2 linked regions of the Homo sapiens genome follow. The protein of the gene in region 1 purifies or fractionates together with the protein of each later gene. This does not show direct contact. Each region holds a gene or a part of one and is shown on either strand. Other genes may lie near its edges.

The links. The genes of interacting proteins can lie anywhere in the genome.
Region 2: the proteins of C16orf46 (region 1) and FAT3 purify together in Homo sapiens (affinity purification with mass spectrometry; 2 studies listed by BioGRID and IntAct, with this or other methods). This does not show direct contact.

Annotation. Positions count from the first base shown.
Region 1 is NC_000016.10:81,060,093-81,067,535, forward strand, and holds the end of C16orf46 (uncharacterized protein C16orf46), read right to left. Parts: intron 6,190-7,443; 5' UTR 6,101-6,189; intron 3,902-6,100; 5' UTR 3,864-3,901; coding exon 3,654-3,863; intron 2,047-3,653; coding exon 1,069-2,046; 3' UTR 888-1,068; downstream 1-887.
Region 2 is NC_000011.10:92,220,094-92,227,817, forward strand, and holds the start of FAT3 (protocadherin Fat 3 isoform 1 precursor), read left to right. Parts: upstream 1-4,724; 5' UTR 4,725-5,081; intron 5,082-7,724.

The DNA of each region.
Region 1 (7,443 bases):
AAGTAATTATTCTTAACCTGCTTCCCAGGCTGGATTTTGTAGCACTGTAGCTAAAACTTCCAGACACAGAGATTAGTATGAGGGTACAATCTGAGGACATGGCACCCTGAAAATGCAGGAGACGATAGTGTATATACATGGAAACAATCTGAGGGTGTGACACCCTGGACGCACAGGGTCTCCAATGCCTTGGACGTCCTGGACACAAGCTGGAGTTTTCTTTTCTTTCTTTTGAGGCGGAGTTTCGCTCTTATTGCCCAGGCTGGAGTACAATGGCACGATCTCGGCTCACCACAAACTCTGCCTCCCGGGTTCAAGCGATTCTCCTGCCTCAGCCTTCTGAGTAGCCGGGATTACAGGCATGCGCCACCATGCCCGGCTAATTTTGTATTACTTTAGTAGAGACAGGGTTTCTCCATGTTGGTCAGGCTGGTCTCGAACTCCCAACCTCAGGTGATCCACCTGCCTTGGCCTCCCAAAGTGCTGAGATTAGAGGCGTAAGCCACTGTGCCCGGCCTGGAGTTTTTTATTAAAGCAATTCTTCAGATCTTTGTTGCAACAGCAAATGAGGCAGCACATAGACACCTGCTTCGTTCAAAAAATCAGCAGGCAGTTTGGTCTAAACCAGCCCAGTATACTTAGTTTGAGGCACGGGGGTGGGGCAGAAAGGACACCTGCCAGATGGCTCTGGGCTGACGTGCGGCCAGCATGGAGGGAAGGAGGCCCTTTGGATTCCCCACTTTCTGCGTGGCTTCTGCTGGGAGTGGACATGAAGCAGGCAGAGGCTGGGGCTGGCAAGACCAATTGGCATTTTGTGAATGGCTAAGTAGCAGAAGCACGTTAACACATGAATATGGTGTTTTAGAAAATAAATCCCAACAATCCACTGAGGTTCAGTTTTCTTCAGTTGTACTACAAAAAAAAAATGGAGGAAAAGAAGAGTAAAGACAGACTGACGGGGAGGAGAGAAAGAGAGAGTGGGGGGTGGGTGGGAAATGAGAGAGAAGAAAGAGAAAGGATGGCTGCATCTCAAACGGTGCTTATTCCCAGGGGTTCTACCGCAACCGCTCAGAGGATCCTGTGGGTAGAGACAGGAATGATAACTCTGCTCACTGTGAGAGACGGCAAGACAGGTCTTGGGAAAACTTTGGTCTCCAGCATTTGGGGCCTGTTTTCCTGCTTGGCCTTTGGGAGAACATGCTTTCGGGTGATCACAGGAGATCTTGGCTCCTTGGCTTTGAATTTGGATTTGTAGCTTTGCACTCCCCGTTTCTGCAGAAGCTGCAAGGCAGCAAGGTAGCGAACGTTGCTGGGGTCTGGAGGGCACGCCAGGTTTTTCTCAGACAGGAGGGACCAATGCAGGCAGCGCTGCTCCGGATCGGTCAGCAGGGATATCTGGGCCGCTGGGGAAGGGGAGGATGGCGTGTCGTTGACCATAGGGTGTTTGGCCAGCTCACTGGCTCTTTTTTCACCTTTCCCATCTGCTGTTTTCAAGCCATATGCATAAGCCACACACCCATCCTTTTCCACATCCAGCACCTTCTCTTCTGACTGCAAGAAAGAGTTCTTACTCTTCTTACCCAGAACATCCAAAGCATTTGAAAGTGAAGCCTTCAGGGGAGGCAGAACTAGGAGGGCCCTGGAAGTCAGGGGGCCTGGGATGGACAGCCCTCTGTGGGCCCCTCCACTGGGATTCCCAGAGGCCTTGCCCCTATTAGTGCCGGGGATGGCCCAGTCTTTGTTGCACCAAATAAACTCCTTGATTTGCAGACTTTTTTTCTCTGCTCGAAAGTAGGTGGGAAAGCAGATGTCGCTAATTGCCCTGGAAGCAGTGCTGGGGCCCTGGGGGGCTGCCTGAGTCTGGGAGGGGCTGCTCTGATCCTTCTCTGGGCCCCCCTCAGTAGGAGGCTTGGTCTGGAGGCTCCAGTGGGAGAGGTTAACACACACCAAGCAGTCGCTGCAGGCACCTTCCCCTACCCTCGCCTTTTTTGGTATCTTCCTCGGCCAGATGCAGGCAGCTGGAGAAGTCCTTCCCCACCCTTGGACCTGCAAATAAAGCGGCATGTTACTCCTCCAGCTGAGGGGCCCAAACTGTCCTTGCCCCAATTTTGGCCACATTCCCATTTTGGCAGTCTTATGTGAAACAATATTCTTATTTTTATTTATTTTTTTACTACCCCTTCCCCCACTAATAATTTTCTTAAAATTCATTCACTTAAAAAAAAAATCCTTCAAAGTTGCAAAGCATGAAAAAGTGTAATACCTACTTTCACCGCTATAAAGCAATAACAGTATTTGTAATAGTATTTGTTAATCCTAAATACTAGCAAGAGCATTTGTTAATACTAAAACACTAAGCAACAGTATTTGTAAATGGCCACTTTGATGTGCTGACTATATTTCTTTTCAAATGCACATTTAAATTTGAAGCCATTAAAATAAAATGAAAACCGTTCATACTTGTCCCACCAACAAGGATTTCGGGCACCGCCAGTCTCTGCTTCCCTTACCTGGGGAACACTGTTGCTTGGAGAGGCTGGAGGGAGACCGAGGAGCAGAGGCAGGTCCTGGAATGCAGAGGAGCCCTGCGTACCCAGGGATACCTACTCCCCATACACGCCCAGAGTCCTCTGGCTGATCTTGCCACAGAGATCACCATTAAAAAAGGGTTGCCAGTAAAAATATAGGACCACATTTTGGACATACTTATACTGATAAATTAGGTATTTATCTGGTAATCCTATGTTTAATCACTGGATTAGACCAAGTTTTCTCATAGTTTTATGCTTTTTTTTTTTTTTTAGTTTTCTTATAGTTTTAAATATAGGATTCTATTGTTGATTCTATGAATTGTTTAAGAGTAAGCCTGCAGACCAGGCGCAGTGGCTCAGGCCTGTAATCCCAGCACTTTGGGAGGCTGAGGTGGGCAGATCACCTAAGGTCAAGAGTTTGACACCAGCCTGGCCAATATGGTGAAACCCCGTCTCTACTAAAAATACAAAAATTAGCTGGGCATGGTGGGCACCTATAATCCCAGCTACTCAGGAGGCTGAGGCAGGAGAATCGCTTGAACTCAGGAGGCAGAGGTTGCAGTGAGCCAAGATCGCGCCACTGCACTCCAGCCTGGGCGACAGAAAGAGACTCCATCTCAGGGAAAAAAAAAAAAAAAAAAAAAACCCACAGAGTTCTGAGTAGAGCCATTAGGAAAGAAGCCTCAGTTCTCTCAGGGAGTTCAGCACAGCTGCTAAGGAGCTCAGGGTTCTAGAGTCCAGGAGACCTGGATTCAAGCCCTGCCTTGGCCACTTATTGGCTGGGTGATCTCGAGCATGTAACTTTATCTTCCAAGTGACTCAGTATACTCATCCACAAAGCGAGGCTGGGAAGAAAACTTGCCCCATATGGCTATTGAGAGGTTAGATGAATTAATGTATCCAAAGTACTTAGTACTGTGCTGTCCACATACTAAGTGGCCATAAATACCCACAGTAGGTGCTGCTCTTATCATCAGTAATATTTTACCTCAATTCCAGGGTTTCTACATGTCATTGATTCCACATTTTTTGGTAATATTAACTATTTTTGGGAAAAAGAGGCTTGCACCAAAACACTGATGTGCGAGAGACAGAAAAGCTGTGACTCAGAAAGATACTCACTGCCTCTTCCCATCCAGTTCCAATAATAAACTCTTTGGCTTTTTCATCTTGTTCAAGCGTAATGTCACTGACATCGAGAAGACAATAAACATGATTTTTTTCACTTTTTCCATCTGGACAAGTATAGGTTGGTTCTGTTTCTTCTGTGAACTGAATTTCATTATTTTCAGCATTTTCTAAGTCAGTCTCATTTTTCTGACAGAGATCCATTACTGTGATGCTTGCTTAAAGTTTTTAACATCTTCTTGCTGTTTAAAAACATGAATGGAACTTCGTTTTTAATATTAATTTTTTTTTAAAAAAAGCAATGCAATACTCAGGTGAAATATCTTCAAGACACATTCAGGAATATGGCCGGCCGCGGTGGCTCATGCCTGTAATTCCAGGAATTACTTTGAGAGGCCAAGTCAGGCGGATCACTTGAGGTCAGGAGTTTGTGACCAGTCTGGCCAACATGGTGAAAGCCAGTCTCTACTAAAAATAAGGCGGGCACCTGTAATCCCAGCTACTCGGGAGGCTGAGGCAGGAGAATCACTTGAACCCAGGAAGCAGAGGTTTCAGTGAGCTGAGATTGGCCACTGCACTCCAGCCTGGGTTAGAGAGTGAGATTACATCTCAAAAAAAAAAAAGAAAAGAAAGAAAGAAACATTCAGGAATAGACTGAGAACAAATATTACGCAACTATCCACTGCCAACCACTGGCACTATGAAAGATAAGGCAGCCAGGAGTGATGGCTCACACTTGTATTCTCAGCACGTTGGGATGCTGAGGCTGATGGATCACCTGAGGTCAGGAGTTCGAGGACAGCCTGGCCAACATGGCGAAACCCCATCTCTACCAAAAATACAAAATTAGCTGGGTGTGGTGCTGCGCACCTGTAATCCCAGCTACTTGGGAGGCTGAGGCAGGAGAATCACTTGAATCCGGGAGGTGGAGGTTGCAGTGAGCCAAGATCACGCTATTGCACTCCAGCCTGGGCAACAGAGCAAGACTCTGTCTCAAAAAAAAAAAAAAAAAGAAGATATGAAGAGACATAGGGAGAAGATGGCCATCTACAAGCCAAAGACAGCAGCCTGGAACAGAGCCTCCTCTCACAACCCTCAGAAGGAACAAACCCTGCCAAAACTTTGATTTTGGACTTTGAGAATCCAGACCTATGAGGTAATACATTTCTGTTGTTTAAGCCACTCAGTCTGTCGTACATTGTCATGACGCCCCTAGCAAAGTAAAACAGTAGGTGATGGTGATAACCCTATCTACCATTAATGGATGTTTTTCTGGAAAATGCACTTGGCATTTAGAATCTAGACAAAGGGTCTGCAAAGTTGTAATCCTGATCAGAGCCAAAGAGCTGAACAGTTCCAGTCCTATTTACCGGCTGTGTCCCTTGAGCGATGACTTACTTTTCTGGGTCTGTTTGCTCATCTATAAAAAGGGCTAAAGCGGCTGCATGCGATGGCTCACGCCTGTAATCCCAGTACTTTGGGATGCCGAGCTGGGTGGATCATTTGAGGTTAGGTGTTGAGACCAGCCTGACCAACATGGTGAAACCCTATCTCTACTAAAAATACAAAAAAGTTAGCCAGGTGTGGTGGTGCACACCTGTAGTCCCGGCTACTCAGGAGGCTGTGGCAGGAGAATAGCTTGAACTTGGGAGGCAGAGGTTGCAGTGAGCCAAGATCGTGCCACTGCACTCCAGCCTGGGCGACAGAGTAAGAATCCGTCTCAAAAAAAAAAAAAAAAAAAAAGCAAAAGCATGATACCTTCCTACAGATAGGGGTTCCTCCTGTGGACCCCACAGGCTGCAGAAATTAACTAGAATACCTGAGCAGTGACCACCAAAGCTCTGGCTTGAGTGCTGATAAGCACCCAGTGTCTTCTCAAGAAGTTCCTTGCTTGTGATAAGACAGGAGGCACAGGGGACACCCACTCCTTGCTTTCTCTCAGCCAGACGTGACCCATGCCAGAAAACTAGTTTTTTTCATTTTTTGTTTAGGAAGAGATCGGTACTTCTTATGACAAATCTGTTGAATTACCAATTTGGCTTTTTCACATAGGCTTAGTTTTTTTATTTTGTTTTGTTTTGTTTTGTTTTGTTTTGTTTTGTTTTTGAGACAGAGTCTCACTCTGTTGCCCATGCTGGAGTGCAGTGGTGCGATCTTAGCTCACTGACAAAATTTACTGGAGTAAATTTTGTAAAATTTTAAGTTGGAAGTTGTACCTCCGCTTCCCAGGTTCAAGCAATTCTCCTGCCTCAGCCTCCCGAGTAGCTGGGATTACGGGCGTGAGTCACCGTGCCTGGCCAACACTACATTTTTATAAGCACTTTACTTATGTAATGAGGGTTCACAAGGAACTGTATTGATTCCTTGTGACTCAAAACTAAGAATCATCCCTGAGTCAATTAACACAGTATTATTAATCAGAAGGTCAGATTACTGCATACCAGATCACCAGATGCACCTTCGGAACACTGGTGTACTTCAGGCAGGATCAACACGCTCCGCTACTAAAAGAGAATATTGGGGTCTTTTCCTAATTAAAAAGAAATTCAGTTAGTGGATAGGAAAGTTGTATTTTAAGTTTCCCTTCTCTAAACATACTATCAAGTTGTTGTCTGTCTCGCTCCGTCGCCCAGGCTGGAGTGCAGTGGTGTGATCTCAACTCACTGCAACCTCTGCCTCCCGGGTTCAAGCAATTCTCCTGCCTCAACCTCCCAGGTAGCTAAGACTACAGGCGCCTGCCACCACGCCTGGCTAATTTTTTTGTAACTGTCGAGTTTTATTACCCATTCTTGTCTTCCAGCTCACGTTAGCAGATGACACACAGTAATGGCCAAGAATCAATAGATCAAAGAAAAGAGTGGATATGTGATTCCTTGCAATCTGTATGCAGTTTTACTTTTATGTTGGAATGCAGACATCTATATTCATATAATATTTTCTGGTAGTAAAATTATGCCTGACTTACACATTTGACGTAAACCAAGAGCTCATGCCATCCCATTTCTTGGCTTCCATTGAACTTTACAACCTGATTCAGTTTGAGAATCACCAGGATAAAGCATACATCAAAGTCCATACAAACGTTTTCCACCACATCAAGAAAACACAAAGATCACAGTGAAGATGTTGCCATGGAGACGCATTTGCAGATGCAACTCTAAAATTGGATTTAGAGTATAAAGCGGGAAAGCTCAAATATGTAGGCCAGAAGGTATTAAACTCTATTACACAAGCTATTAAAGTGATTAGAACCAACATGTACAAAAGAAATAGTTGACTCTGATCCAAGCCCCCAAAGTGCATGTTTGGATAAACAAGAATAAACCCAAAGAAAAACTGATCAAAGAACTTAAGATATTTGGAAACGAAAGAAAGATGGTGAATGAGAGCCTAAAAAATATAGCCTATGGAAATTTACCATAATCCAGAAAATACCTTTTCTAGTAGCATTTAAAGACAGATACAAAAAGGAAATGATCAGCCAAAGAAATGTAAAGTGGTTTATTTTCTTTTACCAATAACATGTTTTGCTTCAAAATAATGTGAGGTTGAGGTTAGGGAGGGAATAGTGAAACCAAAGTGCCCTTAAGTTCTGTTTGTTGTAGATGGGTATGAGGACATGGGGATTAACTGTACTATTATATTTTTATGTAAGCATGAAACTTCCTGTAATAAAACTTTTAAAGCCATGATGTTATCGGAGAGCTCCAAGAAATGAAATGTGGAATAATGATAGAAGCCAGGGTACAATGAATTTTGACCTTAAGCAAACTGAAATAAATGT
Region 2 (7,724 bases), on another chromosome or scaffold:
CTAAAATATAGGGACACCAATAAGAAATCATAAATTACATGTAAGATTAAAACAGAGGTTTTGAATGAAAAACTCTAATATTCCATCCTCTAGACACTTGAAGAAAAGCAGGTTTAATCAGAGGCCAAGAGGGTGGATGAAAATTTTGCTAAAGATGATAAAGTGGGATCCTGGTACTATTAATAACTTGGTACTTGATAACATTTGCCCTTATTTATAACATTATGTCAAAACATATAACAGGTGTAACACTAAATATCCTTTATGCTCATTAGTCATTGTTCGTGTTGAACTTTAGCTTGTAAATAAATTAGAGAGATGAATAAAAATTCCCCCTCATTGGAACGGCAGTGGTGCTAACTAAACCACTTGAATCATGCAGTTGTAGCCCTTCTCACTTTTGCTTTTCTTTGTTTGATCATTTGATTAATGACTTCTCCACTGGCCCAAAGATCTATAAGGGTAGATATCTCATCAGTTTTTGCTAATCATTACATCCCCGACACTTAAAAGAGAGCCAAGTACACAGCTGCTCAAAAATAATTTTTGAACAGATGAATGGGTGAGTGAATGAACAAATGAGTAAGAAAGAGAAAAAGGAGTGGCCTAAAGAACATAGAATTATAGATGTGTTAAAAATGAGTCTCTGACATTACGTTTATTCTCTGTCTAGCCAAAGAGAAGAAAGCAGTAGCCAAAACAGGGGCATAGAAGGAGTTTCCCAAAGGATAAAGACAGTTAGTAGGACAATTTGCTTGCCGAAAATAGAGTACCTCAGTGTGTCCAAGTTTGGTTTGGTTGCTGTTCCAAAATAAGAGGGATTGAAATTGATCAGCCTTAGGATAGTTGAGTGGCAAAGAAGGCCACCTGCAAGTACAATTAGTGGTATACCAAGGGTGGGCCAGTAGGAGAGATCTGCACAGCAAGCAGGCAAACGGGTGGGTGGGAGCACTATCTGTAGAGAATTTAAAAAGAAAATCAGTCTTTTTTTTTAGTATTACTTTGTAGTTGCAATTCTAAAAAATGTCAGTGATAAAATATTCCTCTGTAACAAGATCATTTTGGTCTAAGTTCTAAAAAATTCCTGTAGTTACTGTTTTGAGTTTTAATTACATATATGTAAATTCAAAATTAGCATATTTTAATTACTTACTTTTTAATAAACCTTGCAGTCTAAGTTGAAATTGATTCAGAAAACTTCTAGTTGTACAACAGGTCCCCAACACAGGTGTCCTTGGGTACACGTTTGTTTAAAAGTAAAATCCTCATAGGGCAGTTTGAAAAATCATTTGGCCGTCCCTTGACGTAAGTATTTAGCATTAGTCGTAGGTGTTTTAGCCTGAGATTGCCAGAAAATAGAGCATGATACAAGGACTTGCTGAAAATATTTTATTTGGGAAGTGTGATCCCAGGAAGCATGTGAGGAACAGATGGGGAGAACCAGGGAAGGATGGAGCGCCAGTACAAGGATGTGTTATCAAGCTGGCCATTGCTTCAGGAGAATGGCTGCTTTGTTTAGCAAAGACCACCAGAGAAGCTCCATGGAACACATTTCTGAATCCTTTCCTTGCAGATGGAAAGAGGAGTATTTATCCATGGGCTCCCACCATAGGCTCTTTAATCTCTCATGCTTCTAGGTTTTGGTTCACATTGTAACTTCAACTAAAAAGCCCTGGGTGGGGGTAAGATGCAAGGGGAGCCCAGAGCAAAGCACTTTCAGATTATACCTGTGTGAAGCTGGTTAGAGCCCACTTAGAACTGGCTGTTCCTGTGGTGGCTAAAAGCAACAGGTAAGGCCCAGATGATCTGAAGTGGTGTATGGAGGCTGTGATACATGGCAAGTAATATGATTTTATTATAGATCTGCAATTTTTTATAGGTTCCTTTCCTATGAGGACTTCAATGTCCTACATACAATAATCATTGGGTCTGATAAAAAAATTCCCAAGTTTTCACCATTTGTTAATTATTTGAATATTTATTGAATATGTACTAATATTTATTGAGTGTGCCAGGCTTTATGCAGGGATAGAAATGTAAATATGACAGATTCTTGACTTTCATAAAGCTCACTGTTTTATCAACTCTATGCCTTCCACTGTAGTGACACAGTGGCACCCCTCCCCCGAGCCACATCACCTTTTTTTAAAGAAAGAGTCTTAATCCATCAGCCATGCTGGAGTGTAATGCGGCAATCATAGCTCACTGTAACCTGAAACTCCTGGGCTCAAGTGATTCTCCTGCTTCAGCCTCCCAAGTAGCTGAGTCTAAAGACATGAGACACTATATGTAGACACTACACTGGCCTAATTTTAATTTTTGAGGAGGTGGAGTCTTGATATGTTGCCTAGGCTGGTCTTGAACTCCTGACCCCAAGTGGTCATCCAGACTTGGCCTCCCAAAGTGCTAGGATTCCAGGCATGAGCCACTGTGTCTGGCTGGCACTTTAAAAAAAAAAATACAGTCCCCTTATACAATCAGAATTATTAGCACAATGAATAGTAAATGCTATGCAAATCTAAAATGACCAGAGGAGTGTCCCATTAGATAAACCACTCTACTATTTTTGCAGGAAGTCTCTTACCCACAGGCTATAATGGCTTATGTCAGCCCTGGGAGTAGAGACTGTTTACTTTATTATGTATGTACTGCCTAGGGATGGGGAGGCTGAAATTTAGACAGATTTCTCTACTTATCTCTAAGGCACCTCTGAGGCATTAAAGAACATTTGGGGAAGCTGAAATCCAGGAGCTACACCAGCAGCAGAAGTGGCCACTCCTCCAATCACCTGGCAGTCTTCCCAGGCAGAAGGTAGAAGATGCCTGGCCTCCTTGCCAGCACTCCTTCCTTGAGCATCCCAGTGGCCAAACCACCACCAGCCGACTCTACCCAAAGTGCCTGGTTGCAGGAGCCAGGCACTCAGGTGGGAAATACCTTGATTCTTTAAAACCTTTGATGCAAAGTTAGCTGCATTCTGTCACAAGGAAAATGCCATGCCAGGGACATATTTATATGACAATAAACTTTTAGTGCCTTAGAAAGTTGCTGAATAAAACTAAAATCAGAATAAAATTAATCAGATGCTAACATTTTGGAGAGCAGGTAAGTTTTCCTAGCTCTGTTAGTGGTTTCCTTCACTCCAGACCTATCTTCTGGCCTTCCGTGACAATGAAGCCCTTGGTAACATCATGCTTATTACCCCCGAATTAGCTGATGTATGAGGAGCTGTCACCGTTCCTTAGTATTCACATTAAAATCTCAGGGCGGAATGACCAGAGCATGCCGGGTGCTTTATGTGGCAGTCAAGGCAGCGAGGCTGCTGGAGGCTTTCAAGGGGAACTTTCCACCCGTGGGGCGTGGCGAGGCCTTTGTGTAACTGTGAACAGGGCAGAGGTCCCAGGCTGGGAGCGCGAAGGCCAGAAAGGTAAACTCAATCGGCATTTTAAAGCGCTTGCTCTAGTGATTGAGCACATAGCCCTCTAGAAGCAGCCCTACTTCGCCCTCCAAAGAGAATTTCGTGTTTCAAAAAAAAGTAACGATTTCCTCTGGGGAAGAGATCTGCAGTCCTGGGGTCCCTTTCTCCTGGTGCCAATGGTAGAGTTGGGGAGAAAGTTCCCGATAGAGAGCATAGGAGGAAATGCGCCAGCTGTGCTTGCCTTAGAGACATATGTGAGTTGAGCTCTCTCTCTCCTCTCTCTCTCTCTCTCTCTCTCTGTGTGTGTGTGTGTGTGTGTGTGTGTGTGTGTGTGTGTGTGTAGGTGGCGAGTGGAGAGGGTTAAGGCTGCTTCTTTGCTGGGGGGAAAAGAAAGGCAAAAGTGTGAGGATACACAGAGCAGGGAACGAGTGGAGTCCCCTCTCCACCGGGGCAGTGTGAGAACGGAGGGCGTGCAGTCAGGGGGTCCTAGGACTTGGGTGGGTGCTGCAGAAGTGACCAGGAGGGCTGACAGGGTGGAGATGCAATCATCAAGCTCCAAATCAATCATCCACCCCTTCAGAGTCCCTGTCCTCCATTAAGACAAAAAAATGTTTAAAACATATTGGGGGCAGAGGAAGAGTGAAGAGATTGGACCACGTTAGCTGCTTAGTCTAGTTCCCTCCTCCACAAGGCAATCGGATGACCCCAGGATCTCAATGTTTAGGAAAGTCGTAGGAGCCCTCACTGGGAGGCACATTTTTAGTCCAGAGGCACGACATTTGATGGTTTAATCTTCACACTACAAACTAGCCTTGGGACGTTATATAAACCATGTTAACCTCGATGTGCCTCAGTTTCCTCTTTGTCCCAGGAGAGTAACGCGTTCTCTGTCTTCACAGGGATGTGGTGCGGGTGAGACTCAATGCACTGTGCGAAAGCTCTCCCAAGCCAGCAAGCACCACGCTCTCCCCGCGGCAGGAAAGTACGTTGGTGTCATCCTAGAGCCCCAGAGGGCTGAGGGAAGACTCGAGCTCTAAAATTAGCCGCTTCCAGGCCCGGCGCCGGGAATGCCCTCCAGTTCGCCGCGCCTCCTCCGCCGCCCCCTCCCGCGCGCCCCCTCTCCCCTGCGCCACGCTCCTAGATCGCTAGTCATCCCCGCCGCCGAGGCTCCTCTCCCCCTCGCCCTTTTCGCTCGCGGTTTGGGAGGAGGAGACTGCGAGAGACAAGCGCGAGGGGGAGACTGGAGAGGGGCTTGGCCGTGCGTCGGCGTCGGCTGTGATGGGGAGCCCGGAGCAGCCAGGCGGCGAGCAGTAGCGGCGGCGGCTGCAGCTCGGAGCAGACAGGAGAGCCGGCGCTCCTCCCCGCAGGCTGCGCTGTGAACTGGCCTGCGGATTGGGATCTCGCGCCTCCCGTCCCTCTCCTCCCGCTGCTGTTCTCTTCATCTCGGCTCCCCTCCTCCGCTTGCGAACCCCCGGCGGCGGCGGCGGCGGCGTCCCGAGCGCAGAGCGCTTCTGCTCGCGGCCTCAGTCCCGGCTAGCGCGCGGTGGGCGCTGCGGCGGCAGCAGCCGGGGGACCGGCTCGCCCGGAGCAAGAGCGCCGAGCACCGGGTGAAGAAGACCACGGGGGAGGCGCCTCGTAGAGCCGTGGATCGCCAGCGGAGGCAAGGGTGCGTGGGGATTTGTAGCGTGATGATTTGGCTGCCTGGTGCACCGACTGGAGCGCGCCTGCCGGAGCACAGCCTCAGCTGCTGGGTGCAAATGGGCTGCGAGGTGGGCTGGGGAGGCGAGAGCCGACGAAGCGCGTGGGGGAAACTTTTCACCTTGTAAAGTTCCAACCTCCGCGCAGCCCCGAGCCGCCGTTGCTACCGCTGCAAACAGGAGAAGAGGGTGGCTTGGCCCCGCGGCGGGAGCCGGGAGGTTTACACGGAGAGTTGGCCAAGTTTGGGGCTGAGGATCTGGGGAGGGGTTGCGAGGGGGGTTGCGGATCAGTGCACCCATCCCCGGCTCCCAGCCGCCCCTGCAGGTGGATGAGAAGGTTCAGGTGGCGAGCCTGCTTGGCAGCCGGTGCCTCTCGGGCGCAGTGGGGGATGTTCAGATGCCGATGGATGATGCACTTAGGGGACCCCGAGGTGCAAGTTGGGTCATCGCTAGGCGAGGCGCGGCGCAGAGAGGGAGCCCAGCCTCCACTTTCGCTAGGAAAGGGAAAGGGTTACCAGTCTGCGGGTCCGTTCCCCACGCCTGACTCGGGCTTGCGGGGCTTGTGGTCAGGGTGAGATGTAGTGAACGGCGGCGGCGGCTCTTCGACTGGGGACGACATCCTTTACGGAGTGGTTGGGGACAGAGACTGTCCCTGCTATCTTGACAAGGAGAGGGAACCGGAATGCTTTGCGAGAGTGCATGATTTTTGGCGGGCGTGTGGGAAGGCTGCTTGTCTTTGAAAAGAAAGCAGCGCGGGTCTGACCATCCCCAGGAGTGCGGAGGAGCTGTCTCCGGATTGGGGGCGAGAACGCCAGGGGCACCAGCTCCGAGCTCAGGCCCCACTCCCGGGCGGTTCGGGACGAATCCCCTCTACAGGCCAGTGTGTGTGCAGGGCAAGTGTAGGGGGCTGAGGGGCGCTGGCGGGGAGGCAGTAGAGGTGGCCTGGACCATCTTGGCGCGGCGCGCGGTGAGCGCGAGGATTCCGCCAGTGGGAGTCGCTGAGCTAAAGTGCATCTGGCCCCCCGGCTTGCATGATGGCGAGCCCGGATATTTTTAGCTGTGCTGTGATCTGAATTCCCTCCTCTCCTCTCTCGTTGACTTTTGTCACATGTGCTTTCCGAGATGGTTTAACATTGAACATGATTGGGCTTTGCGGAAAGCAACTTTTATTCACTTTCCACCGTTCTCCTCTTGTGGGCGGGGGGTGGCGGGGGCGTGCTTGGGGCAAGGATGCAGGGGTGGCCGGAGTTTGGCTGCGAGCTAAGAGAGCCGCTTGGGTTGCTCGGGATGAGAGGAACAGGGGTGCTCCCGGGGTGTGGGTGTGCTGGCGGTGACATCCTGAGGCTGCAGCTCGCTGGAATAATGGGCTCAAACCAGGCGGTGGAGAGGGGTCCCCGGAATGGACGTCGGGGGCGGGGAGGCTGCGGAGACCCTGCGAGGTCTCCGTGAAGGACTAGGAGGGGCTCCCGGGAGGGAGTGGCGCCTGCGGCCCGGAGCGTGGGCGGCCGGTGGCTCTGGCACGCGGAATCTGGTGGACTCCTAGCGCCTCGGCCGGGAGCTCCAGCTCCATCCCGCCGCCGCCGCGCGCCCAATGGGACTCAGCTTCGGGTTTGGGCGAACCTGCAGCAGCCGCGGCGGGAGGGAGGGACGCTGGGACCGCGGTAATGATTGAAGTCTTTTTCCCCCCTCTCCCCTCCTCCCGCTCCTCTCCGCCCCCAGACTCTGGCGCGTTTGTTTTCCAAGTTGGATCCCACTTCCATTTACAAGTGTCAGACAAACCCGCGAGAACCTCCCCCAACCCGCCCCGGCCCCAGCCAGACTAGGGAGGGCGCCCAGGGGGAGGGGGCGAGCTGTCTGGGCAGTGCCTGGGGAGGTGCGACGCGCCCACCCGGGGCTTGAGCGGCTGGGGTTCCTGTGCGTGGGTCCTTAATGTTTAAAAGATACACATGAACAGCAACAAAACCCAAACCACTCGTGGCCACTTGTTTTCTGCCGCTTTTCTCCCACTTGCCTCGGACATATTAATTTTCTGGCCCCGACGCTAGTCTTTTCAAAGGCGAGTCCGGGGTAGTGGGAGGAAGGGGCGGGGGAGCAGGCCTACCAGTTCATCACGGTGGATTTGTGCTCCTGGCTTTGTTGCTAGGATTAGATTCTCTGATTGTGCCCAGGCTAAGTTAAAATAAAAGCAGAGAGACAGAGAAGCGGCCAGAAAGACTGCAGACGACTTTGCCTGGATCCAGGCGGCAAACTCAGGTGGTGGAAAGGGGAAGCCCGCCATCTAGGAATTGAGGACCGAGGTGCCCACATCTCAGTATCGATCAAACAGAGCCCAGATTTCTTCTCCACCAGCAGACACTGAACTTCTCTTCACATTTACTGAATGCTTGAATGATGTTCTGGTGTGACGTGGAGATTTGAATCTGAGAAGGAAAGGAAGGGAGGAGGGGATGGAGGAGAGAAGAGAGAAGAGATTTGAGAGACTGAGATTCTTCAGAATCCTAGAAATTGCACAAAGCCAACTGCTTCTGCTTTTTTTCTTTCTTCTTCTTTTTTTTTTTTTTCTTTATTCCTAAATTGGAGCAATTGAACAGTGAGAGAATAAGGAACAGCCA